4 separate regions of the Homo sapiens genome follow, and all the other regions are linked to region 1. Evidence: fine-mapped expression QTL. A gene starts in region 1. Each other region holds a variant in brackets. All regions are shown on one strand. Distances are between the middles of the regions. Region 1 holds the start of CTSB (cathepsin B). Region 2 overlaps LOC105379243 (a long non-coding RNA gene). Region 3 has its middle 22 kb from the start of CTSB. Region 4 overlaps FAM86B1 (family with sequence similarity 86 member B1 (gene/pseudogene)).

Evidence for each region. PIP is the estimated chance that this variant, and not a neighbour inherited with it, causes the effect.
Region 2: its variant is the best candidate, but not a certain one, in a credible set for the expression of CTSB in skeletal muscle (FUSION, PIP 0.81).
Region 3: its variant is the best candidate, but not a certain one, in a credible set for the expression of CTSB in lung (TOPMed, PIP 0.55).
Region 4: its variant is the best candidate, but not a certain one, in a credible set for the expression of CTSB in prefrontal cortex (GTEx, PIP 0.62).

Annotation. Positions count from the first base shown.
Region 1 is chr8:11,865,326-11,870,521 of GRCh38, reverse strand. It overlaps CTSB (cathepsin B), which reads left to right and starts at 2,435. Exons shown (of 10, transcript NM_001908.5): 1 at 2,435-2,521. RefSeq lists silencers at 2,282-2,401, 2,542-2,871 and an enhancer at 2,962-3,171.
Region 2 is chr8:11,791,206-11,796,205 of GRCh38, reverse strand. All of the region lies in intron 1 of LOC105379243 (a long non-coding RNA gene), which reads left to right. It also overlaps the pseudogene SUB1P1 and a transcript of FDFT1 not described here. Among named protein-coding and RNA genes, the nearest start is that of FDFT1, 9.0 kb to the left of the region's middle. RefSeq lists an enhancer at 672-966. The variant G/A (reference allele first, on the strand shown) is at 2,162.
Region 3 is chr8:11,887,171-11,892,366 of GRCh38, reverse strand. No RefSeq gene overlaps it. Among named protein-coding and RNA genes, the nearest start is that of CTSB, 22 kb to the right of the region's middle. RefSeq lists a silencer at 1,059-1,242. The variant A/G (reference allele first, on the strand shown) is at 2,008.
Region 4 is chr8:12,179,983-12,185,178 of GRCh38, reverse strand. It overlaps FAM86B1 (family with sequence similarity 86 member B1 (gene/pseudogene)), which reads left to right. Exons shown (of 7, transcript NM_001083537.4): 7 at 1,473-3,073. The coding sequence ends at 1,573. It also overlaps the pseudogene ALG1L11P. Among named protein-coding and RNA genes, the nearest start is that of FAM85A, 3.2 kb to the left of the region's middle. RefSeq lists enhancers at 3,100-3,599, 3,600-4,101, 4,241-4,751, 4,752-5,196. The variant C/T (reference allele first, on the strand shown) is at 2,829.

The DNA.
Region 1 (5,196 bases):
GGGTTTCACCATGTTGGCCAGGCTGGTCTTGAACTTCCAACGTCGTGATCCGCCTGCCTTGGCCTCCCAAAGTGCTGGGATTACAGGCGTGAGCCACTGCGCCTGGCCTATTTCTTTTTTTCTTTTCTTTTCTTTTGAGATGGAATCTTGCCCGGGTTGGAGTGCAATGGCGTGATTTTGGCTCACCGCAACCTCCACCTCCCGGGCTCAAGCGATTCTCCTGCCTCAGCCTCTCAAGTAGCTGGGATTACAGGCGCGTGAACCACCACGCCCAGCTAATTTTTGTATTTTTAGTAGAGACTGGGTTTCACCATTTGGGCCAGGCTGGTCTGGAACTCCCGACCTCAGGTGATCTGCCTGCCTCAGCCTCCCAAAGTGCTAGGATTACAGTGGTGAACCACCGCGCCTAGCCTGTTTCTTTTGTTTCAAAAGTGATTTTTACCTCTCAAAAGTGATTTCTATAATGACACTGATGGAAAATTCCATCAAATAGCCATAACGCATGTCAAGCACTCTGCTCTGCATACCTTCTGTCACACTCTAAGGATGAGAGAGGGGAGAGTTATCCTGGTTCTGGCTGTGTCCTCCCCATTTTGGCCATCTTATGAGCTCCTTATAGAGGTCTGAAATGATTTGGAGTCCAGAGTCCATGGCTGTCAGGATATGACTAGGGTGAGCAGGCAGTTGGGACCACCTTGACCTCCAGCCTCCTGGTCCTCAGTTCCTCGGGTATCCCACTCTGCTGGGGGCTTAGTGACCATGTTTGGGCTCCAGAGATTATTTTTTCCTTCCACTCCTATCCTTAGTTTGTTACTAACCAGGCGGGAGTACAGGCATGTCTCTGAAGACAGGCTCAGGGCTGTGTGACAGCTGACGACCAGGCTGCAGGGAACCAGGTCCCATGCAGTCCTACTGCCTTTTTTTTTTTTTTTTTTTTTTTTTTTGAGGCGGAGTCTCGCTTTTCGCCCAGGCTGGAGTGCAGTGGCACGATCTCAGCTCACGGGTTCACGCCATTCTCCTGCCTCCGCCTCCCGAGTAGCTGGGACTACAGGCGCCCGCCACCACGCCCGGCTAATTTTTTGTATTTTTACTAGAGACGGGGTTTCACCGTGTTAGCCAGGATAATCTTGATCTCCTGACCTCGTGATCCGCCCGCCTCGGCCTCCCAAAGTGCTGGGATTACAGGCGTGAGCCACTGCACCCGGCTACTGCCTTCTTACTGTCGCCACAGCCTGGATAAAATACGATTCTTCTGAGCCTTTTTTTTTTTTTTAATACAGAGTTTCACTCTTGTTGCCTAGGCTGGAGTGCAATAGTGCGATCTCTGGTCACCGCAACCTCCGCCTCCCGGGTTCAAGCGATTCTCCTGCTTCAGTCTCCCGAGTAGCTGGGATTACTGACACGCGCCACCACGCCCGGCTAGTTTTGTATTTTTAGTAGAGACGGGGTTTCTCCATGTTGGTCAGGATGGTCTCGAACTCCCGACCTCAGGTGACTCACCGGCCTCGGCCTCCCAAAATGCTGGGATTACAGGCGTGAGCCACCGAACCCAGCCCCTCTGAGCCTCTTGAATACAACTGGGGTCATGCCTGCTTTGCAGGTTTGTCTTAAGGATTAAAGCTGTTTGGGGAGTGTCTGGAGGAGGGTGAGTCTTGAGCCAACCCCTGCATCTCCCTTCCAGGGCCTCCCGGTAATAAACCCCAAGTAAATGTGCACTTTGTCCGTCCTCTCGGAGCAGGTCTCCGGGTACTCCTGTGCCAAACCGATTTCCGCCCCCAAGGTCCTTCTCCTCTTAGAAATCCTGACGCAGCTCCTAGGTTCCTTCGCAGTGACAGCCACTCTTTTCTATTTGTACGTAGCTGTAGTGTTTTGTGGGTACGTTCTCTGAACAACAAAGTGGCCCTTCTAAAGGCTGTTCTGTGGGGTCCACAGCCTCGCCACCCCCAGCCTCTGCAGCGGCTTCTGAATGAATGAAATAAGCGACGGCGCCCTCTCCACCACCCCACCCCCGCCAACTCGGCAGGCAGGGATCCCAGGCGCGGGTTCTGGCGGAGGCGGTCCCGCGAGGCGGGGGGACTTTTCTAGGCGGGGTGGGGGCCTTGGGACCACCTTTAGGGGCTTTTTCCCCATCCCCTGGCCCCAATTCGCAGCGTTTCGCCACCCAGGGCCCGCAGGGCTCCAAGCCCTTCTTCCCCAGCCCGCGCGCTCAGGCCCCCGCCCGCCCCCGGCGGTGGCCCCGGACCCCGAGCGGAAGGGGGCGGGGGGTGTGCGGGGCCGGGAAGCGGGGAGCGCGGGCGGCGGAAGGTGGCGGGAGGGGGTGGGGGCTGGGAAGCACCGTGCGCGGGCGGCGGGAGGGCCCGGGCGGGGCTGCGCGGTGGTCACGTGGGGCGGGGCCGGGAGGGTACTTAGGGCCGGGGCTGGCCCAGGCTACGGCGGCTGCAGGGCTCCGGCAACCGCTCCGGCAACGCCAACCGCTCCGCTGCGCGCAGGCTGGGCTGCAGGCTCTCGGCTGCAGCGCTGGGTGAGTGCTGGGGACCCGGGGCCACCGCAGCGTAAGTGACCTTGGCGGGGACGGTGCTACCCGGCCGCCGAGACGGGTTCCTCTGCGCCCTCAGTCGGGCCCAGGCGCGGCCCCGCGGCGTCCCTGGGGGCCGGCGGGGAGCCGGGACCCTCGGGACTGTCCCTGACGGGCGGGCTGGGGTGGGAGTCCGCGCGCTCCGAAGCGTCGGCGAGAAAAGCAGAAAACAGCTCCGCCCGCCAGCCCTCTGCCCTCCGCTCCCCTCCCCGGGCTGTGCGCCGGACCCCGGCCCTCGGAGCGGGGACGCGGCCAGGACCGCCGAGGGAGGCGCCTGCGAGGAAGAGCTCGGCCGGGTCCGGAGACTGCTGCCTGGGACCGCGCTCCCAGCGCCTGGGCCTCGGTGTCTCCGGGCCAAACTGCCGACATAATCGCATCTGCCGGCATCTATTTTCGGTTTATTTCCCCCTCATTGCGAAGGATTTGCCTGGCCAACTTTCTGCGCAAGATCCCACGCAATTCCTGGGACCCCAGAAGACAGGTCCTGTTGAAGAACAGGAATCTGGCACTGGGTGGGCTGGGGAGGAAGCCGCACGGTGTTAAATCCATAAACAGGAAGAGAAACCAGACAGCGAAACCAAGAGGCGAATGGGCGATTGGATGCCGGTGGGGAGAAGGCCGGGGGCGCACCCTGCTCCTGGACTCCAGTAAAGGGAGGCCGGGCAGAGTCCCTGGGGCGCCACCTCCCCCTCGGTTAGTAGCCCTGGAGGCCGGGGGGAGTTGGCCTCTGGGGAGCAGTGGGTGCTGGGTGTGGGGCGTTGCAGGCAGGCTGGGGTGGGCGACCCAGGTGGAAGTGAATTGCACTTGGCTTCCTGGTGGGCCTCTGTCACCCCCTTCCCAGGCGCTGAGAAAGCCAGCAGGCTGGCAAAGAAAAGGACCCTAGCGCAGGCCCCACACTCCTCCTCCTAACGGACGAGAGACCCCCCAAACCCACTGGAGAAGTGACGCTGTGGGGTTCAAATGCAGACCTGGCACCTTTTTGTAGCCTGGAAAAACATTCCCACTGCCTGCTGCCGGAGGAGAGGATAGCTGAGATGCACTCTCTTTGAATCCAAACGTTCAGGAACGTAAGGCGAAGAGGCCTAAGAGGGCGTTGGCTGGCTCTGTCTCTCAGGCTGGAGCACAGTGGCGCGATCTCGGCTCACTACAACTTCCGCCTCCCAAATTCAAGCTATTCTCCTGCCTCAGCCTCCCGAGTAGCTGGGATTACAGGTGCCCGCCACCACGCCCAGCTAATTTTTGTATTTTTAGTAGAGATGGGGTTTCACCATGTTGACCAGGCAGATCTTGACCTCCTGACCTCAGGTGATCCGCCTGTCTCGGCCTCCCGGTGAGTCACGGTGCCTGGCCAAGAACTGTTTCTTGTTGGCTCTGGTGCTGGTGACTTAGAACCCGCCAGCTCCTGGAGAAAGGGGCTGGGCCGCCCACCCTGTGTAGCTTTCCCAAAGACAGAGTCAAACGTCTCCTGGAGAACAGAGGCTTCCCTTCGTCTTTGGTCATTTGTCCTCTAGCTGGGGGTACCCCCTGGTGGAAAGGCACAGGTCCCTTGCTCCCCAGGTGGCAACGCAGGCCAGACACGGCCCTGGCACAGCTCTCCTGGGTGTTGGCTCAGGACAGCCCTGTTTCCAACTGGTTAGGCGGTGAGGGGTGGTGGCCCTTTGGTTCCAGGTTGAAACTGCCCATGTGGTGCTGATTTAGCAGACTGGGGAGGCTCTTTTTGTAGGCAGGTTCTTTTCTTTCCCCAGCTGCTGGACCTGGGAGTTGGAAGAGAAGTTGCACCCATTTTAGGGGTAACAGATATTTTCTGTTGCTCTTGGTTGGATTGGGAAGTGAATTGAAGGGAGGTCACGTTTCAGGGGTGCCTTGGGATGTCTGTCAGTGATTTTCTTTTCTTTCTTAATTTCTTTTTCTTTCTTTTTTTTTTTTTTTTGAGACACACTCCCTCTATCGCTCAGGCTGGAGTGCAGTGGTGCGATCTCGGTTCACTGCCACCTCCGCCTCTCATGTTGAAGCAATTCTCCTGTCTCAGCCTCCCTCCCAAGTAGCTGGGATTGCCAGTGCCCATCACCACACCTGGCTTTTTTTTTTTTTTTTGTATTTTTAGTAGAGACGGGCTTTCACCATGTTAGCCAGGCTGGTTTTCGAACTCCTGATCTCAAGTGATCCGCCTCAGCCTCCCAAAGTGGTAGGATTACAGGCATGAGCCACCGCGCGGTGGAGGGGTAATTTTCTTAAATCTGGTAATGAGTTGTGGTTGTGTAGAGTAACATACCGTCCTTTCGAGATATGGACTGAAACATTGAGAGGGAGGAGTTACAGGTATGTCGATTCTTCTTTTCTCTCTCTCCTTTTTTTTTTTGAGGTGGAGTCTGACTCTCTCACCCAGGCTGGAGTGCAGTGGCAAGATCTCAGCTCACTGCAACTCCGCTTCCTGTGTTCAAGCCATTCTCCTGCCTCAGTCTCTCAACTAGCTGCGATTACAGGCATGTGCCTCCACACTCAGCTAATTTTTTTATTTTTAGTAGAGATTTTTTGTCTCTCCTAAAAAAATCCAATGTAAAAAAATCCCAATGTGGGGGTTTTGCCACGTTGGCCAGGCTGGTCTCGAACTCCTGACCTCG
Region 2 (5,000 bases), 74 kb after region 1:
CATACTCCCATTACAGTAGGATTTGGCTTTGTATTTTGTTTAGCCTTGTATTGCCAAATCCTAGCATTTAGGAGGCATTTAAGAAATATTTATGAAATGTCTAAAGCCACTGTGAAAATCTATGTTAAATCCCCCGTTTTTCACAATGTCAGTTATCACAAAACCCCAACTCATGAACTAAACCAATCTTTCACCTTAGAGTCTGTCGAGTCCAAGTGTGTCCGGAATTGGTTGGTTCTTGGTCTCACTGACTTCAGGAATGAAACCGCCCACCCTCGCGGTGAGTGTTACAGTTCTTAAAGGCGGCGTGTCCGGAGTCTGTTCCTTCTGATGTTCAGATGTGTTCGGAGTTTCTTCCTTCTGGTGGGTTCGTGGTCTCGCTGGCTCAGGAGTGAAGCTGCAGACCGTCACAGCGAGTATTACAGCTCTTAAGTCGGCGCGTCTGGAGTTGTTTGTTTCTCCCAGTGGGTTCGTTGTCTTACTGGCTTCAGGAGTGAAGCTGCAAACCTACCCTGTGAGTGTTACAGCTCATAAAGGCAGTGCAGACCGAAACAGACAAGTATTAAAATTTATTGCAAACAACAAAGCTTCCCAAGCGTTGTAAAGCAAACCCAGCGTGTTGCCACCGTTTTTTTTAAGGCAGCCCGCTTTTATGCTCTTATCTGGCCCCACCCACACCCTGCTGATTGGTCCATTTTACAGAAAGCCGATTGGTCTGTTTTACAGAGAGCTGATTTGTCCGTTTTGACAGGGTGCTGATTGGTGCGGTTACAATCCCTGAGCTAGACATAAAAGGTCTCCACCTCCCCACTAGATTAGCTAGATACAGAGTGTCCATTGGTGTATTTACAAACTCTGAGCTAGACACAGGGTGCTGATTGGTGTGTTTACAAACCTTGAGCTAGATACAGAGTGCTGATTGGTGTATTTACAATCCCTTAGCTAGACATAAATATTCTCCAAGTCCCCACCAGACTCAGGAGCCCAGCTGGCTTCACCCAGTGGATCCCGCGCAGGGCCGCAGGTGGAGCTGCCTGCCACTCCCGTGCCATCCGCCCGCACTCCTCAGCTCTTGGGCGGTCGACGGGACTGGGCGCCGTGGAACAGGGGGTGGCGCTCGTCGGGGAGGCTTGGGCCGCGCAGGAGCCCACGGCGGCGGCGCGGGGGAGGCTCAGGCATGGCGGGCTGCAGGTCCCGAGCCCTGCCCCGCGGGGAGGCAGCTAAGGCCTGTTGAGAAATCAAGCACGGCGGCTGCTGGCCCAGGTGCTAAGCCCCTCACTGCCCTGGCCGGCGGGGCCGGCCGCCCGCTCCAAGTGCGGCCCGCCGAGCCCACGCCCACCCGGAACTTGCGCTGGCCCGCAAGCGCCGCGCGCAGCCCTGGTTCCCGCCAGTGCCTCTCACTCCACACCTCCCCGCAAGCCGAGGGAGCCGGCTCCGGACTAGGCCAGCCCAGAGAAGGGCTCCCACGGTGCAGCGGTGGGCTGAAGGGCTCCTCAAGCGCGGCCAGAATGGGCGCCGAGGCCGAGGAGGCACCGAGAGCGAGCAAGGGCTGCAGGGCTGCCAGCATGCTGCCGCCTCTCACACGTATCCCGCCTCTCCTTACTAAGATGGAAGCCTAGATTCACCCCCGACCCCCCATATTTCCGTGCCCTCCTTCACAGTCCTGTCAAGCGAAAACCTCTCCTCCTTCCAGGCAACAGGCACAGGCACAAAAGGCATAACCGCCACTGGTCACACTCCACCCTGCTGTCTCTGTACCATCTCCTCTCTTTCAGTCCACTTACAACATATCGTGCCTACCTCCTTTTATGTATTTATTTAAAATTTTTATTTTTTTATTTTTGAGACAAGGTCTTACTCTGTCACCCAGACTGGAGTACAGTGACATCATCTCGGCTCACTGCAGCCTTGACCTCCTGGGCTCAAGTGATCCTTCCACCTCAACCTCCCTAGTAGCTGGGACTACAGGTATGCATCACCATGCCTGGCTAATTTTTGTATTTTTTGTAGAGATGGGGTCTCGCTATGTTGCCCAGGCTGGTCTCGAACTCCCGGGGTCAAGCAATCCTCCTGCCTCAGCCTCCCAAAGTGCTGGGATTACAGGCGTGAGCCACTGCACCAGGCCCTACCTCCTTTTGGAACCAACCTGAAACCCACTGAG[G/A]ACCTACTGCCAGGGTGAATTAGATCTCACTCACTGGGAGAGAAGCATGGGAGTGTGGGTTGTTACCTGCCCACATTCCCCCTTCCCCACCTCTTCCATGAGGAACATGTTCCATGGAGTTCCAACGGCACCAACCACAACACTTAGTCTCAACTGTTAGGTACTAGTATTTTCCCAATTATTAGTTTTTTCCGTAAGTCACTGCAGTCAGAGACACTATGAGCAAAGCTGCTCCAGAGATCCTCCTAAGGCAGGGATGAAGGTCATTCTTTCATGTTTCACTCTATAAACTTTGTATTGTGTGACTCTTTTGACGTCTGTAATTTTAAAAAAATAATGTTTCTCCTTGTCCCTTAGGTCTCCCACCATCCTTACCCTGACAAACGTCCATGTCCATTGTGGGGTAATCCAACATCCAATGTCTCCATTTTTTATCCTAAGCCACTGGATGCTGTCAGGGAAAGTCAGGAAATGCACAGGTGTCCTGGGCTTGCCATGTGGCTCTACAGCCCTTCCCTCTAACCCGAAGTGATCACGTTTCCCTTACAGCCGTTACAAACCTGCCCACTCTTCTGTACCCCAAAGGCCTCACTTTTAGCAAATTTTCTAGGGACTTGTTATTCTTTCTCTTCCCACCCTAGTCCAGTCATCTTTAAGCGACAGCTCTGGTGTGAGCTTTCTCTCTCTCTCTCCTGGTTTTCTCCCCTGAACTAACTATACATACATTTTCACGTTATATTCATCCTTTGCTCTCCTCCCTAGCCTTCATTTTTTTTTTTCACATTTCTTACTTTTATTTCAACATTTAAAATATTCATAGATGGAGTATTATATTCAGACATCTCCAAGGAAGATGTATGAAAACAAAACATACAGGCATTTCACAATTACAGAATTGCATATTTGTGATTATGTGAATGTTTACCCTAGAGTTGATCTGGAAAAACACCATTTAAAAAAAAAACTTTTGCGTGATTCACTGGATTAATTTCCATAAAAAATGAACTGCAAATAATTTCAGGATACCTAAATATTAGTACTTTTTAAAATTTTCAAACTTTTATGGTATTCTACTAACATATCTCCTACAAGGAACACTTAATACTTAATTCTTTCTTTTTACCCTCAATAGCCAAGTCAGAATATACTTATTTCATTTTTCACCCAAGTCTTTGTTTCTAAACACATTATGTAGAATAGATTTGGTCGTCACAGCATCTTGAGTAGCTAATGAGGTAGGAGTATTCTTAAGTTCTTAGACATTAATAAAGCAAAGCAAAAGACAAGCAAATTACGAAGTTTTTCTTTTTTAGTGGTTGTTCTTTAAGTAAAATGCTAAGAGCACTGGAAATTGGTCAAAAGCTGCTCACATTTTAAAAACAAAGAGGAAAAACCCATTAGAAAGCCCTGATACACATAGAGTCTGTTAAAGGGAAAAACCTGAGTACTGGAATTAAATTCATTTTGACATTATAAGGTAAGGGATCTATGCCTAAAAATGCCAAGCTTTCTGCCTTGGAAAAAAAGTCTTACCAAGGAGATAAAATTTAAACAGAAAACAAAATTAATCTATACTTTCTTTTCAGAACAAGTTAATTTGCTTCTTTTAACCCACTTCTCTTTTCCTATACACAAAAAAGATCAATAATTTCAGTATACTGCATATCCAGTAACACATTTCAATGAAGTTAGCAGTCAACTTACCAACTGTGCCAGAGAAACACTCCTTATATGGAGGCTTCATTAACATAATGCTAAAGAGCTAGAAAACATGTAGGCAATAGATTTCAGCACCATCTGTTAATAGCGTTTCAAAATGCGTACACCCCCTAAATTCATATAAACCTAGGAAATTTACCCATCATTCTCTCCGTATCTACACCAAAAATCAAAGTTCTGTATTCTAACCATCCTGTGTGCCAAAAATAAGAAATACTTAAAAATCTATCCAATTAAGTTAATAGGACACAAACATGTTCCCCAAAAAAGGAGGGAAGTTACCAATCAAGCATGACGTGTCTAAAATACAAATTTTGGGAGTTTCTCTGAACCTACTCTGGTTCAAAGGGCTGCCAAAAAAAAAAAAACCACATATTTTTAATACATTGGTACCTATTATTTGATGAAGGCTAAATGACAAGAAGAGATTTATTTTACTAATATGCACCTCTTAAGGTTACTGCTAAATAGACTTTAAAAAGTCATCTAAAAAATGTTTTAAAAATACAACAGAATAGCTGCTAGAAAGAAAATTGATAACTATGTGGCCTGGCAAATGATTTTCAAATTAAGTCCTTGACAATCAACTACAAAATGTTTTAGATGTACGAATCAAACTTGGTAGCAAAATAGTGCAAAACTCTGATATGGCAGCCCTTAATAGCAGGTAATCATTTGAGATTTGCTACCAAAAATAAATTGTCAACAAGAATCTTTTATATGTCTTTAAACCTTTCCTTTTTCTACTCTACCCAGAATTGTGTTCCACTGCAGTTATAAAAATCTCAAAATATCATATGTATATCATTTAGATAGAAGATAATTATTTCCTCTTCACTGCCGCCTCCTTTAATTTCAGTTATAGTTCCCTTTATAAACATTCTTTTCCTAAGGCACACCATGCCCTATTTATTGCCACAAAGCCACTAAAATCTGTGCCTCAGTCTGTCTGCTTCATGGCTGTGGTTAAATACAAACCACTTGCTAGTGTCTGCTAAAACTTAGTAACATCAAGACTAGAATGTCATTGTCTGATCTACTGGGGCAAAGGCCGAAATACACAAGCATGTGCTCATACGCTCTTTTCCCTACAAACTAACCATATTACCTACCGACAGTA
Region 3 (5,196 bases), 22 kb before region 1:
CCTGGTGCGGTGGCGTGTCCCCTCCTGTGGTCCCAGCTACTTGGGAGGCTGAGGGAGGAGAATCACCTGAACCTGGGAGGCAAAGGTTGCAGTGAGCCAAGGTTGCTCCACTGCACTCCACAGCCTGGGCGACAGAGCAAGAGTTCGTCTCAAAAAAGAAAAAAGAGAGAAAAGCAAACAAAGGCTGGGCGCGGTGGCTCATGCCTGTAATCCCAGCACTTTGGGAGGCCGAGGAGGGCTGATCACGAGGTCAGGAATTTGAGACCAGTATGGCCAACATAGTGAAACCCCATTTCTACTAAAACTACAAAAAAAAAAAAAATTAGCCGAGTGTGGTAGTGTGCGCCTATAACCACAGCTACTCGAGAGGATGAGGCAGGAGAATTGCATGAACCCAGGAGGTGGAGGTTGCAGTGAACTGAGATCTCGCCATTGCACTCCAGTCTAGGCAACAGTGTGAGACTCTGTCTCAAAAGAAAATAAAATACAGAGGAGAGGAGAGGAGGGGAGGGGAGGAGAGGAGAGGGGAGGGGAGGGGATCTTGGAGAGCTATCCAAACTTCTCATTTCATCAGGAAGGAATCTGAGGGTTTAGTAACAAGGGGCCTCATCCCAGATGACTCAGATTTACTGGTCACTTCCTTTTCTGTTCAGGGAATCTGCCTCAGGCCAATACTAATTGGACCCCAGAGAGTCTTTATTCTACCATCTCAAAAACCTTGTTTAGGATTGTCTTAGCTATTTACTGCTGAGTGACAAAGGAGCATAAATTTGGCACCTAAAACAACACACATCGGCAGGGTGAAGTGGCTTACACTTGTAATCCCAATACTTTGGGAGGCTGAGGTATGAGGATCACTTGAGCCCAGCAGTTTGAGACCAGCCTCAGCAACATAGTGAGATACCATCTCTACCAAAAAATAAAAGTTGTTAAATTAGCTGGTCATGGTGATGTGTGCCTGCCATCCTAGCTACTCAGAAGGCTAAGGCAGGAGGATCACTTGAGCCCAGGAGTTCAAGGATGCAGTGAGCTATGATCATGCCACTGCATTCCAGCCTGGGTGACAAAGCAAGATTCTGGCTCACACACACACACACACACACACACACACACACACACACACACGTTTTCTCACAGTTTCTGTAGGTCAGGAATCTGGACACAGCTCAGCTGGTTCCTCCATTTTATGGTCTCTCACAAGACCACACTCAAGGTGTCAGGCAAGGTTGAGTCTTATCGAAAGGCCCAACTGGGGAGAATCTGCTTCCAAGCTCACTTTTTGGTCGTTGACATGACTCAATTGCTTTTAGGCAGTTGAACAAAGGGCCTTGATTCCTAGGTGTTTTTTCCCAGAAGGCACCCTGTGTTTCTTGCCTTGTGGGCCTCCCCAATCAAGCAACTTGCTTTATGAAAGCTTATAAAGGAGAGAGTCTGCCACCAAGACACAAGTCGTCATCTTATATTTACAGAGGTGACATCCTATCATCTTTGCTCTTCTCTGTTTGTTAAAACCAAATCGAAGGTCCTGCCTGCACACAATTGGGGACATTACACAAGGGTGAGAACACCAGGAGTCAGGGACCACAGGGAGCCATCTCAGAGTTCACTCAACACAAAGATATTAATCTTCATTAAGCTCTTTCTGCCCCAGAAAGCAGCCCAGCTTTTGTGGATGTTGTGAGGCCTGTCTCCCAGAAGGGCATTTATTAACCAAACAGTATACAAGATGGTATTAGTCCATTTTTATGCTGCTGATAAAGACATATCAGAGACTGGGCAATTTACAAAAGAAAGAGGTTTATTGGACTTAAAGTTCCACATGGCTGGAGAGGCCTCACAATCATGGTGGAATGTGAAAGTCACATCTCACATGGGGGCAAACAAGCGAAGAGAGAATTTGTGCAGGGAAACTCCCATTTCTAAAGCCACCAGACTTCATGAGACTCATTCACCATCTCAAGAACAGTGCAGGACAGACCTGCCCCCATTATTCAATCACTGCCCACC[A/G]GGTTCCTCCCACGACACATGGGAATTCTTGCAGTTACAATTCAAGATGAGATTTGGGTGGAGACACAGCCAAACCATGTGCAGTGGCACAATCGGCCCACTGCAACCTCTGCCATCCAGGTTCAAGCAATTCTCATGCCTCAGCCTCCTGAGTAGCTGGGATTACAGGCATGTGCCAGCACACCTGGCTGATTTTTGTATTTTTAGTAGAGACAAGGTTTCACCATGTTGGCCAGGCTGGTCTTGAACTCCTGACCTCAAGTGATCTGCCCACCTCAGCCTCCCAACATGCTGATGCCTGGCCCGATTTCTTCTTTTTCAATATAATGTGGAATTATCTGATATCTGGATCCAATTTAGTTGTTTATGGAACTGAAACTTCCATTTATTTTGTGGATTATTTCCAAAAACTGATTGGGACTTTGTGTCCGATTTCATTCGTTTCTGTGTGTCATCAAAAGCTGTATTTGTTATGGAGATTAATAATATGTTCTAATTCCCCAGAACTTAGCCATGTCTAACCCTGATATGGACAAGGTTCCATCACCTTTTATAAGACCTTTACAGTAAGTCTTCAATAAATATTTGTTGAATGAATGAGTAAATGACTGAATGGATGGGTGAATGGACACTTTCGCTGGCTTGGGTTTGGGCAGACAGTAGGAAGTGGGGGCCACTGTTTCACCAAAGGAATCACGCTGGAGAAAATCCCTGCATAGCATTGAGTTGTGCAACTATAAATCTATTCCCATAAATTCCAATCAATCCTGTAAACTTCAGAGCAAAAATGCCAGGCTGTGTTAGTTTGCTCAGGCTTCCGTAACAAAATACCACAGGCTGGGCAACTTAACAATAGGCGTTCGTTTTCTCACAGTTTTGGAGGTTAGAAGTCTGAGATCAAGGTGTTGGCATGGCTGGTTTCTCCTCAGGCTATGCCTTCTCCGTGTCCCCACATGTTGTTGGGTTTTTTTTTTTTTCTGTGTATGTGCAGCCTTCATGTCTCTCCCTCCTCCTATAAGGACACCAATCAGATTGAATTAGAGCCCACCCTAACAGCCTCGTTTAACTTAACTACCTCTTTAAAGACCGTGTCTCCAAAGACTGGGTGTGGTGGCTCACAATGTAATCCCAGCACTTTGGGAGGTGGGAGCGAAAAGATTGCTGGAGCCCAGGAGTTTGAGACCAGCAGGGCAACATAGTGAGGCTCTGTCTCTACAAACTGTTTAAAAAAACAGCTGGGTGTGGTGGCGCATGCCTGTAGTCCCAGCTACTCAGGAGGCTGAGGCAGGAGGATCGCTTCAGCCAGGTAGAAGAGGCTACAGTGAGCTATGATCATGCCACTGCACTCCAGCCTGGGCAACACAGCAAGATCCTGTCTCTAAAACAAAACAAAAATCAAAACCTTATCTCCAAATATAGTCACATTCTAAGGTAGTTGGGCTTAGGACGTCACTGTGTGACTTTGAGGGAAGTCACTATTTAGACCATACCACAGACCAGGCCTCGTTTTTGCAGGCCTTCCTGTCCTTGCCTCTCACCATCAGACCCTGTCAGTCCCCAAGTCAGTTGACTGAGGAGCCTTCTATCAGCAGCCCCAGACCATTCTTATGGGGGTGTGAGGGGACAGTGCAGGTCCCTAGAGGATATGTCCATCTTCTTTACTCTGGGGATCAGCCCAGAGTCTGGGGGCCACAGTGGACCCCTCTGAACAGCTGCTCCCCAACCCACACACTCCCACTCCCTTCAATGGGGCACCTCCCTACACGCCCGGCCCTCCTGCACTGCTCCTCAATTCCCATCCCTAACCTTGTCTCCTCACACAACTCCAAACCCTGAACTGCCTCCCAATGGCCCTCAGATTTAGCAGTGGCTGTAGACAGATTCGTGCAGGCACAAACCCTGATAGTAGGAAGCTCCCGAGGTGCCACTCCGCCCGAGCCCACGAGCATAGCGCTCACCCTTCCGGCGGTCCTCCCTCCCTCGTTGCTGTTCCTCCTCTTCCCCTTCCTGATCCCTCCTTGGATGGCTGACCTTTCAGCTTAAAGTCTCTGGCTCACTCCTGGGACCTGTGGAGAACGTTTTGGTTTGGTTTGGTTTTGGCTGTTCTCGCTACGCTGGTGAACTCTCAGTCCCGTGGAACTGATGCCATCTGTGCACTGATTGATTGCAAATCCATGTCCCCAGCTTGGCTCTCTGTGAACTCCAGACTCAGCTCTGTTCAGTGTCTTGGCTCGAATGTTTAATAAGGCATCTCATTCTTGACATGCCCCAAACTGAGCTCCTGCTCTCCCCCATAAAACTTCCTCCTCTGAAGTCTTCCCCACCCACGTTTATAGCATTCCCATTGTTGCACAACCATCTCCACCATCCATCTCCAGAACTTTCTCATCCCCCAGCTGAAACGCTACACCTATTAAACACTAGCTCCCCCTTCCCCAGCTCTTGACAGCCCCCATTCTACTTCCTGGGCCTGGGCTTTTACTTTGATGGTGTGGGCGCGATTGGTGGCCTTTGAGCAGAGGAGTGTATGATTTGACTTGGGTTTTAAAGAAGCCCTCGGGCGCTGCGTTGAGACTGACATGCCAGGCGTGAGGGAGAAAGCAGGACGCAGGGGGTCATTAGGAGGAGCCCAGAGGCTCAGCCAAAAAAAAAAAAAAAAGAAGCTGGGCGCATTGGGTCATGCCTGTAATCCCAGCACTTTGGGAGGCTGAGGCTGGTGGATCACGAGATCAGGAGATCGAGACCATCCTGGCTAACACGGTGAAACCCCATTTCTACGAAAAGTACAAAAAATTAGCCGGGTGTGGTTGCGGGCGCCTGTAGTCCCAGCTACTCGGGAGGCTGAGGCAGGAGAATGACGTGAACCCGGGAGGTGGAGCTTCCGGTGAGCCAAGATCACGCCACTGCACTCCAGCCTGGGCGACAGAGCGAGACTCCGTCTCAAAAAAAAAAAAACAACTTGGAATCATCCTGCTTCCTCTTTTTCTGTCTTTTTCTCTCATAGCCCACACCCAACCCATGAGGAAATCTCTGCCTTCAGAATATTCTCACTTCTCACACCTCCCTGCAAGCCCCCTGCTCCAAGTCACCCTCTCCCCTAGCCTGGATTCCTGTTTTGTCTTTCATTTGAGCCAACATTTAAAAAGCAGGAAGCTTCATCCAAAAATACGGATTTCTGCTTCTAGCGAA
Region 4 (5,196 bases), 310 kb before region 1:
GCACAGGGAGGGAGGGTCTGAGCCCAGCAGCCCTACTATGTGCTTCAGAGCAGGGTTCCCTAAGCCCTTGGGCCTCGGTTTCCTCATCTATAAAATGGAGGTGGCGGGAGCGGCAGTCGGGGTCAGGGCTGGACACAGCTGTGGACTGCAGGACGCTGGAGCACAGGCTGTACAGGCGGATCCACCACGCCACTGTCCTGAGCACCCAGTTGATGGAAGACGAGCAGGGTGACTATAGAGAAGGGAAACTGGCCCCGTAGTGGGCCAGCCACTGTCCTCAGACCTGACATTTGTCAACCCCCAGCACCTGTGAGGGTGTGCTGTCATTGTCCCATCTCACCGACAAAGACACTAGGACACACAGAGGCCAAGTGACCCCCGAGCTCCCGCAGACTGCAGCCCGGCCACCTGGCTCTCGTGCCTCCACACTACACCCAAGCCCCCCATTGCCACCAGCCTCTGCCCCAGCTCCCCCTGAGCACAGCCCCTCCTGGCAGCCATGTGCACAGATGTACCCGCAGCAGCCTCTGCCTGTACACAGAGACATGGATGACCCAGTGCCTGTCCACGTGGGGCAGCCCATTAACTACAGAGTCAACAAACAAGCCAGCACATGAAGGCATACTGGGTTCCATGACAGAGTCCCACACAACCTCGCACAGGAGGCTGGCCGGGCGCGGGGCTCAGGCCTGTCATCCCAGCACTTTAGGAAGCTAAAGCAGGAGGACTACTTGACCCCAAGTGTTCAAGACCAACTTGGGCCACATAGTGGGACCCCATCTTCACAAAACATACAGAAACTAGCCAGATGTGGTTGCACACACCTGTAGTCCCAGCTACTCGGGAGGCTGAGGTGGGAGGATGGCTTCAGCCCATGAGGTGGAGGCTGCAGTGAGCCCTGATCTCACCACTGCACTCCAGCGTGGGTAACAGAGCAAGACCCTGTCTCAAAAAAGCAAAAAAGCAAAAAAAAAAAAAAAAAAAAAAAAAAAGGAAGTCTTTCTTCAGATACTTACGTGAAAAAAAACCTGCAATATCTTTTAAGTGAAAAAAACAGTGCCAAGCAGCACACATAGTATAAGCCTCAACCAACCTTTTTTTTTTTTTTGAGACAGAGTCTGGCTGTGCCCGGCCACTTTCTAAGCTTTGTGAAGAGTGAGTTGACTGAGCAGCCAGGGAGATGTGGGTTCAGATCTCTGCTTCTGTCCTGCTGTGCCAAGTGCTGGGGCAGACGCAGGCACAGAGTGGACAGCGGCATGGTGCCTGCTGCTAGCCATTTCTATGCAAAACCAGAGTTCTGGTCCCATCCTGGAGGCGAATTCTAGGTATGTGGGTGGGCCTCGGAACCTGTGAACCAAGTAAACTGACTTAGACACCCCCCACCCCGCCAGGCCTGTCCTAGCAGCCCCACACAAAACGCTCATGTCCTGTCCCCAAACACCGCCATCCTCAAACACGTGCTTTGTTTCCAGGCCGGGATGGGATCAGATGGGAAGCGGAAGCTCATCATGACCAGAAACTGTTTCCCTATGGAGAGCACTTGGAGATGGCAATGCTGAACCTCACACTGTAGGACTCACACATGACTCCAAAGGGATTGTGAGAATCAAGTCACTCTCGTGGGAAGAATTTTTATATGGGAAAGTGGATAAAACTTTCATTGGACTGGAATGTTTGGAGATTATTAAACTCCAAATCAGGAATCAAAACTGCCCTCTAATAAGACATTAGCTGTCTAGGCGTGTGGGTGCCCCCTTTCTGCCAGCAGTTCTGGTTCTCAAGAAAATCATCATAAATCAGACATGAAAATTCTAGCTCCAAAAATAGCATTTTCTTTCTGCAAATAAAAACGTGTGTATCAAGGATGACGTTCCCCCAACGTGGACACACTCGGTTCCTCAGAAAGCCAAGCCCGCTGCAGCTGCCACATCCCTGGACACACTCGGTTCCTCACAAAGCCAAGCCCGCTGCAGCTGCCACATCCCTGGACACACTCGGTTCCTCACAAAGCCAAGCCCGCTGCAGCTGCCACATCCCTGGACACACTCGGTTCCTCACAAAGCCAAGCCCGCTGCAGCTGCCACATCCCAGGGCTTATGGTGCAGCAGGCGCTTTTTTCAAGACAGGAATGAAAGTGTTAGGAACACGGCAGAAAGGTGACACCTGGAGACCAAATGCAGGATGAGGAGTACTGCAGAGGTCACAGGGAAGTCACAGAACAGTAATACGCTAGCAGGGGCATGGGGCATGAAGAACAGAAGACAGGAAGCATTTCAGAGACTCCAAAGAAGAAATCAGGGCCAACCACAGCTTCCCGGGTCATTCACCAGGTGACACCACTGCCGTCATTTCAGCTTCTGGCCACTGGGAGGCGCTGCTCGAAAGGCTTTGCCCTGAGACTCCAAGAAGCTGCGGGAAGGACAGCAGGGGCCCTGGGGTTTTAGCCTCTGGCCCAGGAGTTATGTGTCCATAACCAAAGGGAGCACAGTCTGCACCCAGCTCTCATCCCATCAGAGCTGCTGAGACTCTTGCAGGTTCTTCCAGAACTGGCTTAGCTTGCCTGCAGGATCAGAAAAGTTTGAGAAAAGCATCTGCAAAATGCTAAAGAGCAGAGCTTAACTCATTGCCTGTCCCCACCCCATCCCAGGTCACCACTTGGATGACCCCAGGTCCCCGACCCAACAACAACCCCTCCCAAGTCCCTAACTCCCTCACTTGGACTTGAGACCCTTCACAACCCCCCTCACTTGGACTTGAGACCCTTCACAACCCAGCAGCGCTCCACTTCCAACTTGACATCATGCTTTCTGGAAACTTCCCCGTATGTC[C/T]CACTTTCCCACACTTGGTGCCCTGGAGCACCTTCCGGCCTCTACATGCTGTACGTTCCCCTGTGAGCACCCTCCTCTCGGCCTCTGGCCAACACAGTCCCACCCATCTGTGGGTAACAAGGGGGTGTGGGTGTTCTTTTCAGCCTTGCTAAACTGTCTGAATCAAGGATCACAAACTACAGCCTGCAGGCCAAATCCAGCCCACAGCCTGTGTTTGTAAATAAAGCTTTGTTGGAACAAAGCCACACCCCTTAATCTACAGATGATCTGTGGCTACTTTCACACCACAACAGAGTACCATGGTTCTGACAGAGACTGGGGTACCCTGTCTAAATGACTTCTGACCTGGACATTTACTGAAAATCCTCCCAATCATTCTGTTGACAAGAATGATGTATTACTTTTTGCAATAAGAAACAAGTAACCTTTGCAGAATTCCACCCATCTTTCAAGGCTGGTCCCAGAAGTTCCCTTTGCCCACGCACCTACCTGATCCGATCACTTCCTAAACTGCAGCCCGGCCCACCCGGCTCCAGCATCGTTTATGGAGTGTCAGCTCCATAAATCCAGAGGGCAGGTGGGGTTGTGTCCTAACTTTCCCGAGCCTACTGTACCGAAATGGGACAGCAGAGTAGGAGGCCTCTGTGACTTCTGCTCCCCCACTAGCTTTTCCACCAGACCCCCCATGGTCCCACCCTGGCTGTGGGAAGCAGGGATCAGGGAGCGTGGCTCGATGCCAGTCTCCAGAACCCTGCCCACCCTGGCGTGGTGGCAGACATGGCTACCTGCAGCTGAGCTGCCAGTTCCTCTGACTCCTCAAAGATCAGGCCATTTTCTACATGTTTCACCAGCTCATGTAAACTGCAGACAGAACCAAGGGAGCCTGAGAGCTGCCTGGGGAAGACACCAGACTCCTGGGGTGCCCAGCTGGGATCCCACCCACCCCACGCTCAAGCCAGGCTGGGGTTTGGAACAGGGGGTGTGGTTTCTGGGAGCTGGTTCTTAGATTTGGCATCTGAAGGGTATAAAGGCCTGGGGGGGTGCACATCAAAATGACCAAACCGATTTGAGGAGGGAGCCTTAAGGAAGGTTTGTACCTTCTGTGCTGGATGCTCTTCAAGTACTGAAGAATTACTTTTGCATGTTTTTCTTAATTCCATGGCCATGGAACAAGTAAAGGCAACCCCCTGGGGACTGGTTCAGCACATAAAAGATGACTTTTCTAGGACACCAGATTTGATCCCCACATTCCCTGAGCTCAGCTCACACGAGGGGCTCGCATCCCTGAATCCCATCCAGGAGCCGGCTGCTGAGCAGGGGCCAAGGGCTCAACTTGTGCTGGGGCTACTGCTTCTAGAATCTCCTCTAATGCCACCCTTCCAAACACCCGTCTATGCTGGGTGGAGTGAGGCCACAGCATGACACTCATTTAACTCATTCAAACCCACCATGTGAGCTTGGCCAAAAGGGACATGGTGGGAGAGAAAAACAAAGAAAACCATGTAAGCCTGCAGGCATTTCCCGCCAATTCTACTCTAGGAGCAAAAGCCCCGAGTGGAGTTCTAGTATTTAAGGTGCTTTATTTTTTTTTCATATTGGGTTGGTGCAAAAGTAATTTTCAGTTTTAATGGCAAAAACCGTGATTACTTTTGTACCAACCTAAATATAGCATGAGCTCTAAATGGAAGCACCTACTTCAGTGAGGCTCAGCCCAGCCACAGTAACCGCAGGGCTCCTCCTCGTGGCCTCCAGTGTGTGCTGGACTGACCAAGGGGCAGGGCCTCACTTTGGGCAGCTCACTCTGCACTGCTTCCCCGTCAGCGGTGGATCTGTGAAGCTATCCCCAGAAAGATTCGGGTTCTGCTCCTACCACTTGAAGTTCACGGCACACGCAGGCAAACAGCACCTGAACATGTCCACCACCTTCATGGGCAGGTCCAGGCCACTGGAGGATGTGTCCAGAGAGACACCCAGGTCCACCAACCCTGCTAGGCAAGAGGGGTGGGTCAGAGTGCTGGTCTCTGCCCTGGGAACACAAATCCTCCCAGCACAGTGAGACAACATCCCCCGAGGGGAGTGAAAATTGGATAAGGCCCCCGACAGCCCCAAGCACAAGTGGCTTAAGCTGGCCAAGCAGCCACACGGCCTGGCTGGGACATCTGAAAATGTAAGTTGACACTTTTTCTACGTAACCACAATTTGTTTTTTTGTTGTTGTTGTTTGTTTTGTTTTGAGACAGAGTCTCACTCTGTCACCCAGGCTGGAGTGCAGTGGCACAATCTCAGCTCCCTGCAACCTCCACCTCCCAGGTTCACCTCCCGCCTGTAATCCCAGCATTTTGGGAGGCCAAGGCGGGTGGATCACCTGA